7 separate regions of the Homo sapiens genome follow, and regions 1, 2, 3, 4, 5 and 7 are each reported to be linked to region 6. The links are microRNA targets in miRTarBase. Many come from high-throughput screens and were not tested one by one. Region 6 holds a microRNA gene; each other region holds the end of a gene's coding sequence.

Evidence for each region. Region 6 holds the annotated microRNA hsa-miR-450b-5p (UUUUGCAAUAUGUUCCUGAAUA, at 1,387-1,408, opposite strand). A microRNA usually pairs through its seed, bases 2 to 8, with sites in the 3' UTR of a target mRNA and lowers its output. Matches are read on the target gene's strand: a 7mer-m8 pairs with bases 2 to 8, a 7mer-A1 pairs with bases 2 to 7 and ends in A, and an 8mer does both.
Region 1: miRTarBase lists TIAM2 as a target of hsa-miR-450b-5p. Seed matches in the 3' UTR shown: 8mer at 2,771-2,778.
Region 2: miRTarBase lists GLP2R as a target of hsa-miR-450b-5p. The part of its 3' UTR that is shown has no 7-base or 8-base seed match.
Region 3: the mRNA of RWDD1 is a reported target of hsa-miR-450b-5p. Seed matches in the 3' UTR shown: 7mer-A1 at 229-235.
Region 4: the mRNA of CHML is a reported target of hsa-miR-450b-5p. Seed matches in the 3' UTR shown: 7mer-m8 at 1,155-1,161, 8mer at 2,931-2,938, 7mer-A1 at 3,278-3,284 and 7mer-A1 at 3,285-3,291.
Region 5: the mRNA of GABBR2 is a reported target of hsa-miR-450b-5p. Seed matches in the 3' UTR shown: 8mer at 2,507-2,514 and 7mer-m8 at 339-345.
Region 7: miRTarBase lists GLCCI1 as a target of hsa-miR-450b-5p. Seed matches in the 3' UTR shown: 8mer at 2,858-2,865, 7mer-A1 at 2,612-2,618 and 7mer-m8 at 2,188-2,194.

Annotation. Positions count from the first base shown.
Region 1 is chr6:155,256,965-155,259,964 of GRCh38, reverse strand. TIAM2 (TIAM Rac1 associated GEF 2) reads right to left here. Exons shown (of 27, transcript NM_012454.4): 27 at 2,242-3,000. The coding sequence ends at 2,844. TFB1M (transcription factor B1, mitochondrial) reads left to right here. Exons shown (of 7, transcript NM_016020.4): 7 at 1,883-3,000. The coding sequence ends at 2,129. Among named protein-coding and RNA genes, the nearest start is that of CLDN20, 5.5 kb to the left of the region's middle.
Region 2 is chr17:9,889,516-9,892,897 of GRCh38, forward strand. GLP2R (glucagon like peptide 2 receptor) reads left to right here. Exons shown (of 13, transcript NM_004246.3): 13 at 1-2,584. The coding sequence ends at 190. Among named protein-coding and RNA genes, the nearest start is that of RCVRN, 14 kb to the right of the region's middle.
Region 3 is chr6:116,592,945-116,595,944 of GRCh38, reverse strand. RWDD1 (RWD domain containing 1) reads right to left here. Exons shown (of 7, transcript NM_015952.4): 7 at 1-2,965. The coding sequence ends at 2,844. Among named protein-coding and RNA genes, the nearest start is that of RSPH4A, 22 kb to the left of the region's middle.
Region 4 is chr1:241,630,819-241,634,230 of GRCh38, reverse strand. CHML (CHM like Rab escort protein) reads left to right here. Exons shown (of 2, transcript NM_001381853.1): 2 at 1-3,412. The coding sequence ends at 435. All of the region lies in intron 1 of OPN3 (opsin 3), which reads left to right. Among named protein-coding and RNA genes, the nearest start is that of CHML, 7.8 kb to the left of the region's middle.
Region 5 is chr9:98,287,785-98,291,196 of GRCh38, forward strand. It overlaps GABBR2 (gamma-aminobutyric acid type B receptor subunit 2), which reads right to left. Exons shown (of 19, transcript NM_005458.8): 19 at 325-2,965. The coding sequence ends at 2,800. Among named protein-coding and RNA genes, the nearest start is that of TBC1D2, 34 kb to the left of the region's middle.
Region 6 is chrX:134,538,845-134,542,256 of GRCh38, forward strand. It overlaps MIR450B (microRNA 450b), which reads right to left and starts at 1,418; the gene lies at 1,341-1,418. MIR450A1 (microRNA 450a-1) reads right to left here and starts at 1,587; the gene lies at 1,497-1,587. It overlaps MIR450A2 (microRNA 450a-2), which reads right to left and starts at 1,763; the gene lies at 1,664-1,763. MIR542 (microRNA 542) reads right to left here and starts at 2,593; the gene lies at 2,497-2,593.
Region 7 is chr7:8,086,184-8,089,595 of GRCh38, reverse strand. It overlaps GLCCI1 (glucocorticoid induced 1), which reads right to left. Exons shown (of 8, transcript NM_138426.4): 8 at 516-3,403. The coding sequence ends at 3,058. Among named protein-coding and RNA genes, the nearest start is that of GLCCI1, 120 kb to the right of the region's middle.

The DNA of each region.
Region 1 (3,000 bases), not on the chromosome of region 6:
TAAATGCTTGCTTTCTACCGAGTTGCCCTATCTCTTCTTTAAGGACACACTTGAGAACTAGGAAGCAAATATGACTTCTGAGCAGCCAAAATCATATCACGAAGTCCTCACGTAAGCACGTTTCCATCTCACAGAAAGCTGCTGCTGCCAAGAGGCTCTCAGGAATCACTGGGAAAACCTGACAGGGCCTGGTGGTCTAGAGGTCGCCCACCTCGATGGGCTCTGAAGGACCACAGCCTTGTTGCAGATCCAGAAAGAGCCAAGAAGCTGTTTAGTTAAGCCCAGTGATAGTCTGCTTAAGAAGGCAGGAAAGTGTATTTGTAAAAGATTTCCATCTACGATAATCTATCCATAGTCCGCTGTTTAAAGAGGCTCGGCGTGAGAGGCACATATTTCTCATTTTCTAAAACCTCCTCACATGGCTTCATTGTAATTCTCTCTTTCACAAGGTCCGAAGTGTCCCTTTAGCATATGAAATGACAGCAGATTATTTTAGGGGCCAGCTGGGCATCAGCTCCTAAGAGTGCTGCAGTCCACAAAGCCCATTGCTGAGGATGCCAGATGGCAGAAGCTGGAGCCTCAGCCTGCCACTTGTTGCCTCTAATTAAGCCAGAATTCCCACCTTACCAGATAGTTCCTGCTTCTCTAGCAGAGACTTAAGGTGCAGAGCTGGTGACAGAGATGCCACTGGCCAGCCATTTTGGCTGCAGCCCCCAGCTACTGTGCACTGCTGGTGAGTGAAACAGAAGCTGGATTTTGGCTCACACTTACCCCTCACGCAGAGCAGGACCCACACAGCTGTACCTGATAGCCCTGATTCATGGGGGAGGAGGGAGCACAAAACTATGTCCTTTTATGTGCTTTTGGAAATCCTGGAATTGGTCTGAGCCTAGAGCTGGCACTAGCGTTTCCAAGGCAACCCCCCAGCTAAGTGAAGGGCCCTATTCATTTCAGATACACCATCCTCAGGACAGACATGGACCAGATACTGTGCCACCCAGGGTAACAGGTCAAAGGACTTTGACTTATTGGTGTTCTTCAGATATTAGAAACTGCCATCATCAGGCCCTCTTTGCCATGAAACTGAACTCAAAGATCTGTCACCTCACCCTGAAAGTGTGGGGGACATGCAATTCCTTGTTGAAAGGACCATCAGCCTATAAGCAACATGCTATCTATCTCCCCTGGCCATGACACCTTCCAAGCCCCTTGGGATGAGCTCTGTAAGAGCCCTGAGACTTGAAGAAAAATGCAATCCAGGCCTAACTCCGCAGCATTTCAAGCAGTTCTGCTATTCATTTTAAAACAATGGTTCAATTTGGATAGATGAAATTTAAAATATATCCTCTACTTCAAATCAGTTTTAAAGATGCTTGAAAAATAACAAGAGGAATAATTATATTTTCCTATCAGCTATTTTCAAACTTTTAGCAAAAAAAAGTAACTCTTTTAGCGTGAAGAGTTCTAAAGGCTGATACATTCAAATTCTAGAGAATCAAAACTGATGATTTGTCACACAAGAAATAATACAACTTTCACATTGAAACATGAGGCACATCAAGCTTATGTTTCTACAAGAATGCAGCTGAGCAGATGTTACTTTAAACTTACTTACTTACCTTTAAAAAGTACATGTACTGATTTAGCTTTGGAGAATGCTTTCCCATTGTGTGCTTGCCTCGCGCCTCAGGTTAGAGCTGCCTCAGTGGCGGGCCGTGCCTCTTATCTGGTGCTATATAATCCAAGAGGCTCCTGCCACTCTCTCCAGCTGTCAGTAGCCAGCAACTGTGTTGTGTTGTTTTCAAATGAGGGTTAAAAAGTGTCATGATTTGCAGAATTTAAGTAAAATTCTTATTTTTCTGTCTGTCTGTCTTCCCCTCAGAATGTTATTCCCTGAAGCGCAGCGCTTGGAAAGCACGGGCAGGCTGTTAGAGTTGGCAGACATAGACCCTACTCTTCGGCCCCGCCAGCTCTCCATCTCACACTTTAAGAGCCTCTGTGATGTATACAGAAAAATGTGTGATGAAGACCCACAACTCTTTGCATATAATTTCAGAGAAGAACTCAAGCGAAGAAAAAGCAAAAATGAAGAAAAAGAAGAGGATGACGCAGAGAATTACAGACTCTAGCTGCTGCCTGGGGGCGAGCAGCCTACCAGATGTCGATTTGCACTACGTGGAGCTTCTTATATAGGTACTCTTTTGTCTTTACAGAATGACGATACAAATGCCAATGACCAGATGTGACTTATTTTCCTTTTACTATACAGCTTGGCAGAGAAAATAAATATCATCAAATAAGATACAGTACAAGCTTTCTTTTAATATATACTGTATAGATAGTTATGACATGTTTAGTATAAACAGCATCTATTACAATCTATCTTACAAAAATGAAGTATCTGCACATTTTGCCCCTAAACCACATTAAAATAACTTAAATATGCTTTAAATAAAGCAAAAACTAACAAACAGCTGAAAGAAAATGCCCAGAGGATTTTAAAAAATGGCCCTTTGAAAACTATTAATCACGACTTCCCCAGCCTTACTTTTTCCACATAACTTAATTATTAGAATGTAATTTTAAGGATCCTAAATCATTTGATACCTGCTCAAAGTGGATATAAACTAAGTAATTTACAGATTCTGACCAGTTTCATCTAGGTTTCTGATCCACAATAAATTAAAATAACTTAAATCTTTACAACCATTTTGTGGGAAAATGTATACTGCACAAAACCCAGGAATGAACAGTTTTTTTTTTTTTTTTTTTTTGCAATTTCCACTTTACCACCAGTTTAAAAGTAAAATGAGGAATTTAACCCATATCTGGATTGAATCATACTATGATTTTCCGTGGCTCTCTGTTTCATAAAAACACTCCTCACTGACAACAGATGTTAAACTCTGGACACTGAATTCTCGCTCTAGAACAGAATTTAGGTCGATGGTGGCATTTTCAGACTGACTGTCAAGGGACTGGTGACGGATCTGCGCCTTG
Region 2 (3,382 bases), not on the chromosome of region 6:
GAAGCTGCAGCCCTCACTTAACAGTGGGCGGCTCCTACATCTAGCCATGCGAGGTCTTGGGGAGCTGGGCGCCCAGCCCCAACAGGACCATGCACGCTGGCCCCGGGGCAGCAGCCTGTCCGAGTGCAGTGAGGGGGATGTCACCATGGCCAACACCATGGAGGAGATTCTGGAAGAGAGTGAGATCTAGGGTGGAGTTCCACCACCCTGGCTCTGCTCCCAGGGACTCTTGAGGGGGCCCAGGAAGAGGAAGCAAAGCAGGACACACGTTGCTGGGCACGGAATCATTCTCGTTCCATTCACCATGCCACTTTGATATGAAAGCTATCACAAGGTTCTTCAAGCTCTGTATGAAAGAGGCTGTGTGTCATGCTCACAGCCTCTGCCTGCTCTTCTCATCCTAATAACCCCCACCAGTGTGTTTTCCACAATGCCCACCAGACCCTAGGGCCTGGCTCTAAATTCAAGCCAATGAAGTCCCACCATGAAGAGAGGTCTCCTGTTATAGAGAAGCCAGCCAATATCTCTTCCTTTATCCCTTGGGGTGCATGCTTTCCATCTGAGGTTGGGTTTAGGGTGCGTGAAAACCTCCTAGGAAGCTTTTAAAATGCAGAATCCTAGACTTGTGGCTAAGATTCTAAGACAGTGAGTCTGGGACCATGGCCAGGAATTGGAGCTGTTTAATAAGCATCCCAGGTAATTCTGCTGCAAGCCCACCCTTGGAGAACACTGGGCAGGGTGAGAGGGAGCTAGAAGCGCCCCCATGTGGCCATGGCAGGATGCTGCAAGAGACAGTCTGCTCTCCCAGGTCAGCTGGGGTGTGCCTGCCCTCCTTGGAGAGTATGTAACTCCACCCACCAGAGTGCCACTCCTCTCTGCTCTTCCTCTCCTATCAAGTCTTGCCTCTCTCTCTCTTTGCCTCAGTTCTCTGTCCCTGCACAGCAGGAGTTCTGCTTGATCCTCCCTTTGAGGATTGGCCCCAGTGCCTGGGGACCCTCTGAATGTCGTCTTTGGTCTGTTCCTCTCCTTTCTGGCTCTATCTACCTTTCTGAGTTTGGCTTCTACCAGCCTGATTTACACTACCATTCTCTTGGGGCAAGGAATGTCCCCACCATTTTTGGTTTGCCATTGATGCATTGATTGTCACACCTGTTGTCCCAGGAAGTTGACCTATAACTCTCCATGGCCAGAGTCCCTGCTGATCAGAATTCAATTTGCCCAGTGGGAATAAATACTGAAAGCAGGAGGGCCCAGGTAAAGCAATAGGAGTTTGGCTGGATCTGGACATGCCCAGGGTGGCTCTGAGAGATCCAAGACTTTGCATCCACCAGCCTGTGGGATCTTTCCTGCCTACTGTGACCCATGGAGGCTGAGGAGGGCCCAGGCAGTTGGGGTCAGGCTCAATGACTGAAAGTATAGGGCAAGAGGCTGTAGGAAGATCAAGGGATGGACATCCTTTGGAAACAGTGTGTTAATGCACAGGAGTGTCACTTTCATGGTATGTAAAATGCATGTGTACGTGGGTGGGGTATGTTGCTATGGGACTAAATACCACCTTGTCTTCGGGGGAGTCAGTTTGATACTCCTCAAGCAGGGCTGCCATATTTAGCAAACAAAAACAAGGTACTCAATTAAATTTGAATTTCAGACAAATAGTCTTCTTGTATAAGTATATCCCATGGGCATATTTAATCTGAGATTGGAATTCAATCATGCATCTTGTCTTTTACTGGCATCTCTGTTTTCAAGGATACTTTGCCACAGGGCTGGGACTAGGGTGAAATAATCAAGGCACTCATCTCTAAAAAGCTCAAAGTAAATGATCAAAATAAATCATATTTTAATGCAATATTCTAAAAAAACAAATTAACAAACTACAGCCCATGAGCCATTTATAGAAATGAAATTTGATTGGAGCCAGGGGCAGGATAAGGGTGAGGCAGGAGAGGCCAGCTCTTGCAAGTGCAGGCTCTGGTCCTGACTTTCAAATGTTGTCTATGAGGGACTTTTAATGTGAATTTTTATTTTTAGACAATTGCATTAAAATGTTATTTATATTGACTATGGGGACTTTTGGGGCCCCCTTAAATTTTGCACTTGAAATGGGATCCCCACTTGTGTCACCCCATAGTCCAGCCCTGGTTTTAGGATGGGGATGGAGGCAAAGGCATCAGGCAAGTAATGAAGCAAAGGTTTATTTTTTGGTGTCCAGATTATCCATAGCTCAGTCATGAAAATCTATGTCTTTCTATTTTTCTCCTTTCTGCAAATGTCCCTGCCTCGGCTCATCAGCCAATTAGCTCCTAGAAAGCTGGGGTCATCTCGTATTCCCAGCAAGTACCCAGCACAGTGCCGGTTCAGAGCAGGTGCTCCACACACATTCCTGGAATGAGACAGCACAGAAATGGCTCTCGGGAGCCTCGGATGCTGCTGGGAGTAAGTGATCCAGGACCTTACCGCTAAGAGGAGAAACTTTTTTTCAAAGCATTTATAAATACTCCCTCCACCCCTCACTCCACAAATGGGGTGATCAACACTTACTGCTTGCTCTTGTTCTGCTAATGATTAAAACAAGTTTATTTAATTTCATTTGCATTTTGTTGATTCTTTTACATTTGTCTCTCACTGGAGCTGAAGGTCTCTCCCACCCATGAAGAATGCGATGCACTATTCCTGGCCAGAAGTGAGGAAAAGGGCTGTGGCGTTTAGCCAGGGACCTGGGTGCTCCAATATCTTAAATTTGGTCTTAGGGACCAGAGGAGTGGGCAGAGGGGCCGGGACCAGAAGCAGAGGTCAGAGGTCAAAAGAATGGAAGGAGAGTGTCTCCCCTTTTATAGACCACCCCATTGGTCACTCAGCTTGCCTGTTGCTTTGAAGATCTAGTCTAGTGGTTCTCAATCCTCGCATTACAATCCCTTGGGAAGCTTTTTATTTATTTTTATTTATATTTATTTATTTGAGACCCAGTCTCACTCTGTTTCCCAGGCTGGAGTGCAGTTGCATGATCTCAACTCACTGCAACCTCCACCTCCCGGGTTCAAGCAATTCTCATGCTTTAGCCTCCCGAGGAGCTGGGTCTACAGGCGTGAGCCACCAGGCCCAGCTAATTTTTTTTGTATTTTTAGTAGAGACGGGGTTTCACCATGTTGGCCAGGCTGGTCTTGAACTCCTGACCTCAGGTGATTGCCTGCCTCGGCCTCCCAGAGTGCTGGGATTACAAGTGTGAGCCACCACGCCCAGCCCCCTGGGAAGCTTTTTTAAAAGACCAGTGACAGGGTCTGACCCCAGAGGTTCTGATTGAAATGGTCTTACTAGACCTGGGCATTGGGATTTTTATAAGTTCCTGAGTGATCTTTTTTAAATTGTGGCAAAATATATATAA
Region 3 (3,000 bases), not on the chromosome of region 6:
TTATTATCACTCCTCTTAGTTTTACCCCAACTGGGAAATGTTCACATAACCATTTAGACGTGTTGCCTTAGATCAGCATTTATCCAACTTTTTCCCTAAGGCATCCACCTCTGCTGGCAAAAGTGCATGAAGTAAAGCAGGATCAAGGAACATTATTCCAAGTTGTAGATGGCAAATACAACATTTCTTTGAACTCTCATGCTTTACTTTAAAATACATTAGAATTAATTTTGCACTCTATTCTATAATTCATTCATTCAACAAATATTAGGGACCTACTGCATGCCAGGCATTATTACAGGGATACAGTAATGAATAAACATATCTGTGTTTGTTTTTAACCTAGTGACATTTTAATACAACTGGCACGAGTAGAAAAACAAAAACTTTACCAAATCAAAGAGCAAAACCGATAATCCAAGATGGAACAATTATTGCTTCAAATACCACTCGTCATGCTATTGCAACCTGAGAGTATATTTGCACCCATTTGAGCAGCATAGTCTTGGGCTAATTCCCAGAATACAAAGCCAACAGTAAATATTTACTCTAGATGAAAATATTTGAGAATGTTATTAGAACTAACTAGGTTATTAGAAGACAACTAGGTTGTCTTCATTTTACCATTAGATTCTGCCTTTAGGTTCTGAAATGGCAAAGGTGGACATCCACTTTAATACCTGGAGAAATATATAAAATTTATTCTTAAAAATCACATGAAGTGGATGGGAGGTTATCATTCTTGACACTTCAAAGTTAAGTCTTGATTTCAGCACCACATTGCTAACAATTGCTTTTTATTTTTTTTAACCTTAATTGAGCAGCTTCTTCCAGGTTCTTATGTATCTGCTGATCAGCTTCAAAAAGATGGGAAAAGCAAAATCTCACATAGGACAAACTTTTGGATTTCTCTCTGCAAAGAAATGCTGAACATTCCTGTTGTTATTCCATTCTATTGGTCTGGGATCAAGGCTGACGTGAAGATTCCTTGAAAAGTATTAAACTCCTCAATGGTAATTTTATCTTAAATAATTTGCTTTTTGATTATAAGGTCTAACTCCAACAATAAATGAAGGCTTAATATTGCTGTTTGTGGGTATGTGGCATATGTATTTTTTACTGGAGGCAGCTCTTTATAATAGCTTTATGAATTTAAAATAGCACAACTGATTTCCTATTGGGGTTAAGAGTCAGTCCTCCAAAACTGTAGTGACTGAATAACTTGCATGAAGACTGGCTCTCCTACCTGGAGCCACCAAGTCAATCATCCCAAATTATTACAAAGGACTCTATGTGCACGGATGTTAATGTGTTTCTCTTGCAGACAATGTACGATCCCCAAAATTCAAACTCCTTCAGACTGGTTAATTAGAGAAGAGGTAAAGAAAATACCAAAATATATAGACTTCACGACTACAGGACAGTGGTTCTTAACCCAGATTGTGCATCAGAATAATCTGTAGAACCAGTATGAGATTTTGCTGTTTTAAAATTCAGACTGGGGATCAGTGTTCATAAATCTAACTTGAGAGGGGCCTAGGAATGCATACCTTTTAGAAACTCCACAAATGATTCTAATTTAAATACTGTAATTTAAATTTTAATTTAAATTCTAATTTAAATACTTTAAGACTGCTATGGTTTGGATATTTGTCCTCTCCAAATCCCACATTGAAATTTAATCCCCAGTGTGGTGGTGTTGGGAGATGGGGGCTGGTGGGGTGTTTGGGTTATAGCAGGTAGATCCCTCATAAATAGATTAATGCCTTCCTGTGGGGAGCAGGGGTGAGGGAGTTCCCACCAAAGCTAGTTTAAAAAAAAAAAAAAAGCCTGGCACTTCCACCCTCACTCTCTGGCCATGTGATCTCTACACACATAGTGCCTCTTCCCCTTCTACCATGAGTGGAAGCAGCGTGAGGCTCTCACCAGATGCAGATACCCAATCTTCAACTTTCTGGTCATCCAGAATTATGAGCCAAATAAACCTTTTTTTTTTTTTTGAGACGGAGTCTTGCTCTGTTGCCCAGGCTGGAGTGCAGTGGCGTGATCTCGGCTCACTGCAAGCTCCACCTCCCGGGTTCACGCCATTGTCCTGCCTCAGCCTCCCGAGTAGTTGGGACTACAGGTGCTCGCCACCACACCTGGCTAATTTTTTGTATTTTTAATAGAGACGGGGTTTCACCGTGTTAGCCAGGATGGTCTCAATCTCCTGACCTCGTGATCCACCTGCCTCAGCCTCCCAAAGTGCTGGGATTACAGGCGTGAGCCACCGCACCCGGCAAACCTTTTATAAATTACCCAGCCTCAGATATTCCTTTACGGCAATACAAAATGGACTAAAAGGAAGGCTAAACTTCATCTTACTTATGATCATAATATGGCCTCCTGGTTTTATCAAGACTTAAATTTAGTGTGCCTGGAGGCTAGAATCTGGATGGTTTAATGTGCTAGTCACCTCAGTTTTCTCACACTTCATACAATGCTTGAAATCCAGAAGTAGCCAAAGTCTCCAGCATAGAAATTCCAAGTTATTCCAATTTCCTGTGTATAAACTCATGTGCACAGCAGCAGCCTACCTTCGAGTCTTGGTGCTATAGGCAGGATCTCTCTCAAATACTAGGTGATTTTAAATACGTAACCTTGTGCTCAACAGTAAGAAGCCTTGAACATTTTATATTTGAAATTTTAAGGTCAGTTTATTAAGTTCAATGATGAAAGCTATCAGAAGAATATTCTCCTGAAAATAATTTTTTCTTAGAAAAAAAGAAAGGAAAATCATAACCCTCTGAGCATAGCCACAGATGCTGTGGCAGTCAAGCCTCTCTGCAGATGGGGACAGTCCATTAGTCAGCTGAGTCACTCTCTGGGTCAGCAGGATTATAGTCTGGATCATCTTCATCATCCTCCAGCTCCAAGTCATCCATTTCTTGGAACAAAGACTCATCTACCTCCACGTTGTTTCCAGCTGCAAAAGGCAACCAAAAAAAAAAAAAAATCTCC
Region 4 (3,412 bases), not on the chromosome of region 6:
TCATCTTCTAAAACAGCAAGAGAAGACTTAGAATCAGTGGTGAAGAAATTATTCACTCCGTATACTGAAACAGAAATAAACGAGGAAGAACTTACAAAGCCAAGACTCTTGTGGGCTCTTTATTTTAATATGAGAGATTCCTCGGGAATCAGCAGAAGCTCGTATAATGGCTTGCCTTCCAATGTTTATGTCTGCTCTGGGCCTGACTGTGGCCTGGGAAATGAGCATGCTGTCAAGCAAGCTGAAACACTTTTCCAGGAGATCTTTCCAACTGAAGAATTCTGCCCTCCACCTCCAAATCCAGAAGACATTATCTTTGATGGTGATGATAAGCAGCCAGAGGCTCCTGGAACCAATAATGTAGTAATGGCCAAACTAGAATCCTCTGAGGAAAGCAAAAACCTAGAAAGCCCAGAGAAGCACCTTCAAAATTAGAAAAGAGCAATCTCGAAATGCTGTTTTGGACCTCCTTCATGGCATCAGAATTTTCTCATTTAAAGGACAGTTTCCCATATGAGTAATTAGAAGTGGTTATATATGATGAATGCTATGCAGATGTTGTCTTTAACTCTCAGACATTCAGCATTGAATATCTTTGTTAACCTATCAATGAGTGATTTATTGATTATTGAACATTTTGTTTAGAATGGGCTATATGACCCAGAATCTTAAAACAGAGTTAGCTTTATTTTAGTATTGGGTATATATGTAAGGGTTCCATATTAGCAACTCAGCTTAAAGGTAATGTATTTGCTAATGATCTTCAGATTTTATCTTTGTCTACAGAACAATTAGTAATACCCAAGTAATATTTTAATTACTTTTGCAGCTGTTACAGTTGCTGCGGCCTGTTCGAATAGTGAAACATACACAAATGGTAAATTATGTGGATCTTTTGCATATAATATAAATGTATAGACATGGTGGTAGGAATAGCAACTAATACAAATGCCAATATGATAATAAAATACATTTGTCTATAATCGTTTAAAGATTAGCTTTGCATGATCCTTTATGCACTGTGAAGGTCTGAAGTTTATAATACTCACTTGACCCTTGTAACTGATGAGGCAATGATGCCACCACAGTATTCTAATTTACAAAAAGAATTGGAGTTCAATTAGTGGTTGTAAAGCTCATTTTGGGGAGGTTGATTGCAAAGGAAATTTGAAAGATAAGATTTATTCTTATTTAATACTTCAGAAAATTTCTGCAGAGCCCTGCCCTGGCACTTAAAATAGCTTCCAATAAGTAACTTAGACCAAAAGGAAAAATGAAGTGCCCCAGGAGAAGATACTTCAGAAGGGCTGTTCTGAAATTCCTAAGGAGGAATTCTTAGGAATTCCTAAGGAGAAACAGAGTGAGGCCTTTTTAACCTGAGATTACAGATACTTATAAAACCCTCTATAAATAGATTACCCAAGGTTTTTCAGTGAGAATGAAACATACCACCTTGTTGGCTCTACCACTTTAATTAATATCACTATAACATAACTGATAGGAATGAATCAAAGGAGGATTTACCATGCCCTTTCGGTTGTGTCCCACTTAACAAATTGTGAAGTAACAATTTTCTGTAATCTCTCTTGCCTCTTAGCTGTTATCCAGAGTATAGAAACTTTTTTTCTCCCAGAGCCACCCAACGTCATAAAACTGGTAGTACTCTAATGGTGAAAACCTGTGGAGCTGTCAGAAGACATGAACTTGCTTTTCCTCTAGTCCAGTTTCCATTCTTCAGTCAGAGTATGATGATCCCTGTGACAGTTTTTGCTCTGAAATAGTATTTATCATGTGTTTGGTACCTAGTATTATGCTTTCTCATGACAGTTTCTCAACAATCCTGTGAGGCAAATTCGCATGTACCCTCTGTATTAGTGTGTTCTCATGCTGTTGATAAAGACACACCTGAGATGGTAATTTGTAAAGAAAAAGGTTTAATGGACTCACAGTTCCATGTGGCTGGGGAGGCCTCACAATCATGGTGGAAGGTGAAAGGCACGTCTTACATGGCGGTGGACAAGAGAGAATGAGAACTAAGTGAAAAGGGAAACCCTTTTAAAACCATCAGATATCGTGAGACTTATTTACTACCATGAGAACAGTATGGGGGAAACAACTCCATGATTCAGTTATCTCCCACCAGGTTCCTCCCACAACACGTGGGAATTATAGGAGCTACAATTCAAGATGAGATTTGAGTGGGAACACAGCCAAACCATATCACCTTCAAAGAAGAAATAAGAGAATTATTAGTAATTTGCTCAGAATCTGGTATGTGGAAGAGCCAACATGGGGACCCAGCCTTTTGTGATTCTAAAACCTTTGATCTTTCTACTAACATTCACTGTTAGAGAGTGTAGGCGCTGCAGGAGAAAGAGAAAGTGCCCACGAAAATTAGTCTAGCATTGCCGGGGGTAAAAAGCACACACTGGTCCTGCAGCTTATTGAATCAGAGAAATGTGAAGATAAGATGAACTAAACAAACATATTTTAGAGCATGGATCTCGAAGCAGAATTTGGCTAAATTTTAACAAAATGTTCTTCAGTAACACATCTCATGATCTGAAGATTGTGTTACAAAAAATATTATCAGGCCAAAATTTGTTCGGAATACACTAATTTTTGCTCCTCTATATGTGAGGAAAATGAGACTAGACAGATTTAAGTAATTGACAACTTACTTAAAGTAGCAAAGTCATGGATTGTATTGACTTTTAAAAATATAGTAAAAGTCATATTTAAACTTTATCCTAAAGTTTAAATCTAACAGAACAACTGAAATACTTGAAATAGACCTATAAAATAGTAATTAAAATGAGAAATACATAAGATGATAAATAAAATGAAGGTGAAGGTATTCCAGATCTACCGAAAAGATTTTCAGTATCACAGATTATTCATAAGAAATTGAGAAAAGGAACAATCAGAAGTTGCAAAAGATGGTATAGCCGAATATAATGGAAATAGGAAAAATTAGTCGAAAATAAAGGTTGATTTAGAAATGAAGAAAATGAATATATTTCTTAATACAAAATAAGTGGGAAATGAGAAGTTATACCAATAAAAAGCATTTAAAAATTTAGGGGATATTGTAACCCAGTATAATTTTCTGACAGGTTGGACTTTGACCCTAATGGACTTACTGGTGAACTTTTTCAAATGTTTAAATAATGTCTATCCATGTATCATGAAGGACAGTATGCTTCAAATTGTCTTTTGAGGCAGACATGTTCTCAGTACTAAAAGACATTTTTAGAAGGATTTTATTCTCAACAGATGCAAAATGCAAAATAAAATATTGGCAAACAATACAGCAACAAATAATTTACTATCACTCAGGATTATAAGGCTGGTGTTAAGCAGAACAGCCATTAAATCAGCATCAAAAGAACAAATAGTAAAATCCAAAGTA
Region 5 (3,412 bases), not on the chromosome of region 6:
CTCCATTTTTTTTTTTTTCTGTTTCATCGCAGACTAAATTTCTCTACATGGAGGAATCCTGAGGAAGTGATTTACCGGCCCAGCCTAGGTCAAATTCCCACCCTCGAATTAATCAGCTGTGGCCAGAAGTTGGGGTCACCTGGTAACAGGGCTGCTTTGCCGCTGTCAGCAGGAGGCTGGGATGGGCAGTTTATGAAGGAAGGGACAATGCTGAGCAGGCAACCCCAGAATTGTCCCCTGAGTTTCTAAGCGGAGGAATATGGCCCGATCTGACCTGCATTTTGGGATGAGTAGGCATTAAAGACGACAGGTTTTTTCCTTTTATTCATAAAAACAAATTTGCAACAATTTATTAAAAATCGATACCATGCAGTAGGGGTACGAGAAATTCCTCATTTACATTTGATTCTGGCAGTTCCAGTCTAATTTAAAGCGTTTTGTGCACTAACATCATTGGAAAATGCCTTCAGGCCGAAGCCTCTTCAGAAATGGACGGTGTGTTTGCTGCATATAAAAGAACAGAACCATTAAGTAGCTAGAGTCACTTCTGTGGGTCTTGTTATTTGCGAGGAAATTAAAAAAAAATGGGTGAACCTACAGTATCAGTAAGACAGAGAATGTACTTCGTGAGTTAACCTAGAAGACAGCGCACGCTCAGGAGTCACAAAGGGTTACAGACGCACAGGCTCACCTCCGACAGTCCAATACTTTTGTTTGTTTTCCTGCTATGCTGGAATAATATTTCTACAGGTATTTTTTTTTGTGTGTGTGTATACATTATGTACAATTAATTGTCTCTTTCCCTTTGAAAAATTAATGTGGTCCTTTAAATTAAATTTGGTTTTGGTGAAATCAAGAAAGCAAGTAAATACTGGTAATACACAGTGAGTGACAACACCGATTTTTAGTGCCTAAACAGAGAATGACTTCAACTTGACCTGTGATGTGTTAACATTTTTTTTTCCCTAAAAGCTACAGTACCTCCATAACCTCTCTTTGGGGAAGGGGAGCAGAAAGCTATGCTACGTGAAATAGGGTGCTTTGAAATGTTGGCATTGGTAAGATTCCTGTGGGCCCTTTTGTCAAAGCCTGGTGGAGAAAACAGTTTATTCCTGACTGCAGTGGTTCTGGGAAGAGATTATTGCCTGCCTGTTGAAGCTGCCAATAGGTTTCTTTAGGGAGTGAGCGAGCTGCTCAGTTGTGCAGACATCCTGGACATTGTCATTCAGGCCTTTCTTGAGCAAAGAATGAACCTGTCTAGGAATGTCAGAAAAGTCACTGGGAGCCTCCCTCCAGCCCGGATGTTCTGGGTAGAGGGCTGTGCTGGAAGCTTCTCTGGGCCACACCCCCGGCTGTAGGGAGGGCTGAAGGTCAGAGTCATACTCATACCTCACGGATCAGGGCGGCTTCACTGTTTGGTACAAAGCTTTCCTGGACAAGATCAAGTTTCAATCCTCAGAGTGACCTTGTGAGGTAGGCAGGACAGGTGTTTTAGTTCAACCCCAAGTTACAGAGGGGAAACTGAGGCTCAGAGAGACACTAGTGACCTGATCAAAGTCACGTAGGGAGTGGGCAGGGGACTGAGGACTTGAACCCAGGTCTGTCTGACTCCCAGGCCAGTGCTCTTAGGGGCTCAATTTAAAGGGAGGAATGATCTTATGAATGAGAATCAATCTGCTGACTGATCACCCCAGTGATCCCAAGGGGAGAGCTCACTGGCTTGTCTGGATGGAAGGCTGCCTTCTGGAAGCCAAGGGAAGCCCTCAGCCAGCAACTCTCTCCCCTATGTCTACGGGGATGTCTTTTAGCAGAGTGCCTCCAATTCACTTTGGTCAGAAACAAAGTTAGTGGGAAAAAAAAAAAAAAAATCCCAGCCAGCCCTTGGGCCCTGATGAGAGAGGTTAAAGTGCACAATCTTTCTTTATCGTGTTTGCTGGGAACAGACATTCCATGATTAGCTCGGGTGGTCCCCCTGGTTACTGGGAGCATCCGATAGGAACACAAGGACATGGCCAACGTGGTGGGTGCATGACAGACTGTCGGTGAATGCTGCAGAGCGTGTCTGCAGTGACGTGCCCTAAATCCCCACGGTCCCAGGAATGGGTGTTATTGTGTTAACGTGTGGCATTTACCAGAGTAACAAACATCTCATTGGGTGACACAGGTCCCATGTGGAGCATGTAAGTCAGCCTGCTCCAGTGCCGCAGCCCTCGGCCTGCCTGCTCCAGGGCTGTGCCTGTCTGCGCTCCTGCAGACTCCCTGTTCCAGGAAGGCTGGGGTCAGCTGGCCTGGCAGCTGGGGGCCTGGTGGCCCTTCCCACCTCCTCCCCCAGAGTGGAGAAGGGCTAGCCTGAGGGGTCACAGCCAGTGATGTGTGTGCAGAGGCAGTTTCTTCAGAAGCTCCTTGCCTCTTCCCAAGGCTGCTCGAGCCACTCCGTGACTTCCAGCTGGAGTTCTAGTGCCTCTCTCCTTGTCTAGTTTTTTTGTTTTTTTTTTTTTTTTTTTTTTTTTGCAAGTTTGATATCCCAGCGCCTCCTTGTTTGCAGATGTTAAGGAAGACGTCCCATTTCCGTTCCTCTTCTTTGTGAAGAAATAAGGACTTCACAAATAAGGCTCGAGGTCAGGTGCCAAGTCTCCCCCTGCCCCGTCCTGTCCACCTGAGTGCCATCCGAGTGGTCCTGAGAGGCCAGCCATGGTGCCCAGCTTCTCCGCAGCCAGAGCCGACAGTGTTTCTGCAGCAGACCCCTCTGCCCAGTGTGGTTCTGTCACGGGGGAGGCCCCGGGCCCAGGCCTCCCACCCTTACAGGCCCGAGACCATGACTCGGAAGGAGGGTGGCACATGTCTGTGGCGGGGGCTGGCGGTGGGGCTGACGCAGGGGCTGACACAGCTGGCGTCCACGCCTCCGATGGATGGGAGGTAGGCGTGGTGGAGGATGGGGAGCTGGAGGGACAGCCGACGCTGGATGCTGAAGAGAAGGAGAGGGAGGAGTGTTAGTGAAGGGTAGCTGGGCGCTTACCAGAAAGTTCCTTGGACTTGCTTTGGCTAAAAAAGCTGATGACAGGAGCATATTTTTCTCTGAATCCAAGATCTGTCCATCCAATCATCTAACCATTCAGCAATCCAGCAGGTATTTAATGAGGGCCCATATGTACCAGCTACTGCCCTGGGAATGACCAGGGAGACTTGAATAAACAAGGGAGATGAATTTTCTCGAGCTTTGGGCCAGGATTTGGTGGTTATTATAAATACCCTAGCAGAAAAGATGCTCCTTGACTTACGATGGGGTTACATTCCCATAAACCCATTGTAAGTTGAAAATATCGTAAGTTGAAAAATGCATTTAATCCACCTAACCTACCAAATATCCTAGCTGAGCCTCGCCTACCTTAAATGTGCTCAGAACACTTACAGT
Region 6 (3,412 bases):
TCCTGTATCTTTGTAAATGGATATGTGTATATATATTTGCCTCACAACTCAGCTTCTCCTTTAAGGAATATGATGGATCTATTTTGAAAGTAATGTCGGCCGGGCACGGTGGCTCACGCCTGTAATCCCAGCACTTTGGGAGGCCAAGGTGGGCAGATCACGAGATCAGGAGATCGAGACCATCCTGGCTAACACAGTGAAACCCGTCTCTACTAAAAATACAAAAAAATTAGCCAGGCAAGGTGGCGGGCACCTGTAATCCCAGCTACTTGGGAGGCTGAGGCAGGAGAATCGCTTGAACCTGGGAGGCAGAGCTTGCAGTGAGCTGAGATCGCACCATTGCACTCCAGCCAGGGTGACAGAGCCAGCCAGACTCCGTCTCAAAAAAAAAAAAAAAAAAAAGAAAGTAATGTCTAGTCATATGGACTTGCTAGAGTGCCAAATATGTCCTTGGTGGGGGAACAGTTTCCCAAAATGCTACTAAAAAGATAGGAAGGAACTTAGATCCTCCTGTAATGTGTCTCTGTCCAAATCAGTGCCACTGAGGAACGCTAAAACCTTGGTAGGTGCCCTTCAGACCATGGGCCAGGTACGTGACCAAATGGTTCCATCTCTTACCAGAACAAGGATCGCCTAAATTGAGGTGTCACATGTGTTCTGCAACACCAGAGTTACTATGGAGCTCAGCTGAATTTGCGGGAAAATGCAGGGGGGGCTTTACCCGCATCTGCAAGAAGTTGGCTGAGTGGAAATAACCTAAATAAGGTGTTTTCCTGACTTGGGCATATCTCAAACTGGCCAATGCGTCTTGAGGCCCTGGGCGAGCATCCAAGTACCACCTTCCTGAATTGCTACTAGAGGAAAAGGAGCCTGTTTCAGCTTTCTATACTTCTTTAAATGTTACTTTGATTAGACATAGATAGCAGTTTGTTTACTAATATTACTATTATAACTCTGTCGTGGTTATATTTTTTAGTTATACTTTCTCTTTTCTTTGCCAAGAGCAAATGAAAACACATTTGCACTGCAGATCCAACTGAAGTTGTACAAAGGTTTCCCAGATATGTTTGAAAAAGTATTCTAGGCCCACTGCTGGCCAAATAGGAAGTCTTCCCCCACCCTTATGTCAGGGGTTCATGCTTTAAAAAAAATACAAACTCTTTTTAAAAATAAAATGTTTTATTATTGCTATAAAAGCAATGCATTTTATTGTTTATGCAAATATTACTTGGAAAATACATAAAAGTATAAAGAGAAAAACAAACATTACCTATAATTTTATACTATAATACTGTTACAAGTTTTGGTATATTTCTTCCTAGACTTTTCTCCATATGTTGATACAAAACTATGGATGCAAAATGATCCCAATACACTTATATTACATATTCAGGAACATATTGCAAAAATAATTCTGCATCTTACATTTATCACAGAAGTAAACCACAGATAGCCGCTGTTAGATTTTTTGCTTATTCCCTCCATCTTTTCATCTGTATATTGATACAAAACTATACATGCAAAATGTTCCCAATATATTTATAGTGCATATTAGGAACACATCGCAAAAACAGTTTAGTATCGTTTTTGATTGCCTATAGTGACACAAGTCAGCGATAACCACCTCTAGACTTTTGGTATACTTCCTGATAGCCTCTTTTCCCCATATTATTGATACAAAACTATGAATGCAAAATGTCCCCAATACATTTATATTACATATTAGGAACACATCGCAAAAATAGTTTAGCATCTTTCTTTGGTCACCTTTATACCACAACTCAGAGATAATCACAATAAAGTTTTTATATGTTTCCTCCTAGCCTTTTATCTGTATGTTGATACAAAACTATTCATACAGAATGCTCCCTATATACCTATATTGCAGAGATGGGAAAATATTTTGCACCTTTTTTCAATCGCTAAATGTTTTATCAGGAGCACATTCTCATGACATGAAAATTACTTTCAGAAACATTATTTTACATGAAAGCATCCTATTCTATTGTACTAGCTAGCTACGCTGTATTTTATTTGTCTAATCCTTTGTTGTTGGTCATTCAGGATGTTCCTAACTTCCATCCTTAAAATATTGAAATGAGCATCTTTATGCATTTTTTTTAACTGGGGCTTTCTGTTCATGTAGTTTTTATGGTTTTTCTTGACCACTTGTGTGGACTCAACATACTAAAAATGACCCTGTGTCTGTAATGCTTATAGCAAAGTGTTTTCCAGTTGTTTGCTTGAGCATAAATTCTTTATTTTAGCATTCTAGCACAAGTATAAAATCATATACCTTATGTAAGTTTCAATTCATTCAACAAACATTTAAAGCAATAAAGACACAAATAAAGGCATTCCCATTACACTCCTATGAAAACACAACTCATCCTCCCACCCCATCCCATAGCAACCCCTTTCTTCTTTGCTTAGGGCCCACTTTCCTCCTGATCTTTTCATTGATTCGTCTTGTAATACTTACCACATGTTTTGCTATGAAGATGAGTGGCTCCCAGACCTTTCAGTTATCAATCTGTCACAAGTGCACACTGGTATCTCGTGACATGATGATCCCCGAGATGTCTGAGATCTGTGCATCCTTGACCGATCCCAAATTTCTGTATCACCCATGACCCCTAAAGACTTTTTAGAGAATTATATTTTGACAACATAACAAGAAAACGTGGCATCTCACACACACACACACACACACACACACACACACACACACACACACACAAAACCATGAAAAAGTAGAGAAAGAAGAAACTTCAGCTCTAATCCCACCACCCTTAAGTAACAAGTATGTCTGTTTTGCAGGTTTCCTCCAGGTTCTGCTCCTATTTTTCAATCATGGTGTCCATGTGATTTTGTGGCCCTGATTTTTTTTAAGTTGATATCATAAGCATTTTCCAGGTTTCTGTATATTCTCTATCATTATTATTTGCAATGGCTGAAAAAGGTTCCATTGAGTGAGTGACTAGATTAAGTCAACCCCTATAGCTTGACACTTCATTTGTTTCCTTAAGATAATTTGATTGAATCTACAGAAAATAACAAACATGGGACAGAGGTTTAAAATGAATTTAAATCATGCTTTTTTGGTTTGTGCAGATTGACTTGTACACGGCTGGGTAACTTATAGTCACTATTTAGTAATCCTGGGGCCAATCTTGGGCCTCACCCAGGAAGTGTCCAATGTATAGGCCAAAGCTCATCATAAGACTAGCCAGTTTCACCGGGAATTTTTGTAACCAAACACATTCACCTCCATTTCCTGCTCTGGTCACTACTGCATAGTCGGTTCTGATGAACAGGTAATGACATAAGGAACACAGTATGAGGCCTGGAGGAAGAGCCCCCAGAGAGTAGCCTCAGACAAATCCTTAACCTCCAGAGGCCCCAGTTTTCT
Region 7 (3,412 bases), not on the chromosome of region 6:
CGCTACCATATGGCCTACCAGACCATATCCATGTCTGGATAACTGGGCATGATGTCAACCCTCCTTTGTTTTGTAAAGCTTTTCTCCACCTTATTCTGAATCTAAACAAATAAAAAAGTAAAAAATTAAATTTTATTGCTGCAGCTTTGCTTGCAAGAAATATGCAACTTCCTCTGAAATGATTTCATTGAATTTAAACTCATTTCTATAAATTCTGAGGTATAAAGTGATGTGAGAACAATGTTTTCTCTATTTAATGTGATCATACCTGGGAACAGTACCAAGACTTGGAACTTAAGACCTCTAGCTTCTCACCTTGTGATGGAGAGTGTGTAAGTTAAATGCCAAGAGGAAGCCAGGTTGTAGAAATCTGATCCAGTTAGACACCCCACACCTCCAGACATGCAGGCCAGGAACTCAATGAGTACAGAAAACTACCATTAACCTGAGCTGAATTTCTCTCTGTCGGGTAACGAGCCAACAACCCCAGTCTTTCCAAAAACATGTGTGAACTATTTCAGTTTTACTAATAACTTTATTTAAATAAGACACAGGAACTTCTATACTGAAAAAATACAAAACAAAAGCCACACATTTCCTTGTGTAAAGCCATATTATATGGTAACTCAAATACTGTTCAGCGCAATGGCTAGAATTAAACAGTACAATTATATACAAAATTTAAACAATTTCTGACAAATTTCTACAGCTGGATGTAGGATACATTTGAGCTCAACAACTTCTGGGAAATTTACATGGCAAAGCGTAAGCTTTAACACATTTGGTTCAAAACTTTAATATATGCTAAGAACAAATGTACAACACAATTAATATTTAGTATCTCATGAGAAAATAAAAGCACATCACTATAAATATCGTACATGAGATTTCATCACCAAAAAAGCATATTCAGTCCATTTTTCTGAAATTGATATTGATACTATTGCATTTTATTTGGACAAAAGCAGAGTGTAAGATCAACATATTATGTAATGCTAAACCAGACATCAGAAGTCAAATGGAGCTCATATTTATCTTACGGAACTAGTAATTTTCCCCCTTTAACCATAATCTACAAAATATAGTATTTTCATCAAGGCCTGAGATTATTAGGGTTAAAGGTATCTGCTGCTGAAAAGATTGTTTTAAAAGGTTCCCCTGTGAAAATGACGAAAGTAAACTGAGTCCTTTTTTCCATGACAGTCTCCTACAATATAACACTGACTAATTTAAAGGAGCCAGAATGCACCTTCAGGAGAAAATATTACGACAAACTTTGGTGGAAAGAAGAGAATTGAGATCATGACAAAATAATGCACAGAATACACACACACACACACACACACACACACACAAACATATACATATATATATCATTTCTTAAAAAAAAAAATCAATGGTGTTGCTTTCTTCTCTATCACTCATCCTTCTTCAACCTTCTTAGAAAATAAAAGAAAAACCCAGGAATGAATGAAAGGAACTGAAACGTTCCTTTAACTGTAGGCACCTGGTTCCCCTAATTCTTAAGAAAATTGTGCCATACACTTTAGGCGCAGATGAAACAACTCTAGGTTTTATTGAACTGAAAGTAGTGGAATACAAAAACTTAGCTTTTGGATACTCTTTGTACTGAAGAAAACAATGAAAGTTAGGCTCTCCCATTGACCAATCAGGAATGCCTGGGGCTCTCTTCACACTTTGTGGAGAACTTGTGTCAAAAGTCTGCAAGTTCAAGGCTATTTTCTTGAGTTTATGCTCTACCTCACAGGTTGCAAATTTCAAAACTACTCATGATTATGCATTATGAGAGGCTTAAATGAGATAGCTTCAAACTATTGCTCTTGTAAGTCACCAAAAAAACCTGCTTATGTTGCATCAATTCTGAGACCCAAGTATTCTATGTAAATGAAGATCATGCACCTAAACTGCTTGAGGAAGACAATAACAAAAAGTATGTCACTTTTTCACCTGCAAAATAAAGAATTTCCAAGGGAGAAACTAAATATAAATATGTCTTTAGATAAAATGGTAACAGTTATGACCCTGATGGCTAACATAAACAAAAAAATCTCAACCATTCCGTCAAACACTTCACTTATTTTGAAATTAACTCTAGACATTCTTGTCTTTAAATTTCATCACACACAATGTGGAATGTTTATGTACAGTCCAGTACTGAACACTTTATTTGCAACATTGTCACAGTCCTTTACTGAGCAACACCTGAACTTTTAAAAAAGCCACATGTACACATGTTGAAACAGTGAATGCAACAGTTGTTTTACTTGTAACCACATGACAAAGTGATGTCAAACACCACAGATTTTGCTGGTTCTCCTCATGTTCACCCATGTCCAGGATTATCATTCTCCTAGGATTGAATGCACTTCTTATTCTAAGAATGTGGAATGTAATGAGGAAAGGGAAATGCATAAAATAAGGAAAGGCAAAAGAGTGATGTTCCCTCTTTAGCTTTTTAGCTGTGAAATATTTAATATCCCAATATGATATACATTCCAAGTTACCTGAGTTTAGACTTCAACTGAAGTACCTGAAGCTAGGCCATAGGGTGGGCACTGTGCAACTGTTGTGGCCATTTTTTTTTTTTTTTTTTTGCATTGTATGTATTACAGAAGTTAGAAACAAACACCTGGATCAATTGTAAACATAATCCTGAATTACAGTATTTTCCATAGGACAAAACACAGCAAGACATTTTCTATTTAGACAGGCAACTTTTTGATATAGAGCTTATTTATACTGAAGAATCTGGAACAAAACACAGGACACAGTACTAATCTGTCAAATATACTATGAAATGCATAGTCTCCACTTAAAATGCTGAATGACACACACGTTTTGCAAGCATTACTGCTTTCCACAAAAACTGCTGAATAGGAGTTCCGTCCCTGCCAAGATCAGTGTTTAAGAGATACTTTATGATGCTGATAAGTATTATTGGTGGTGGTGGTGTTCAGAAAGTTTGTCACTCATGCAGATGTCTGAAATCTTGTTCCGAATCCATGGAACATAGGGTGGAGGCCAGCTCCCCCTTTTTTAGATGATCACATAGTTCTGAGCAGAGATGTGGTCCTCACCCTGCAGTTCCTGCAGGAGCTGCTGCTGCTGGGATGGCTGCTGGACAGAGGCCTCCATGGAGCCCGCTGTGCTGGTGTCATCAGAAAGAGACGTAAAGGAAACCCGGGATGAGAGCTGCTCAACGGTCAGAGTTGCCAAAGCTGAGCTCTGGCCAGAGTTAGGGGAGTTCTTGAGCATAAGGTCAGAAGCAGGTAAGAGGGGGCCTAGAAGTTTTACAGGACAGAAAGCTGATCCGGTTGGGATGAAATTAACCTTGTTTTTGTCAGGACATGAAAAGAGAGGGGCCGAGATAGGCTGACGAGACCTAAAACCA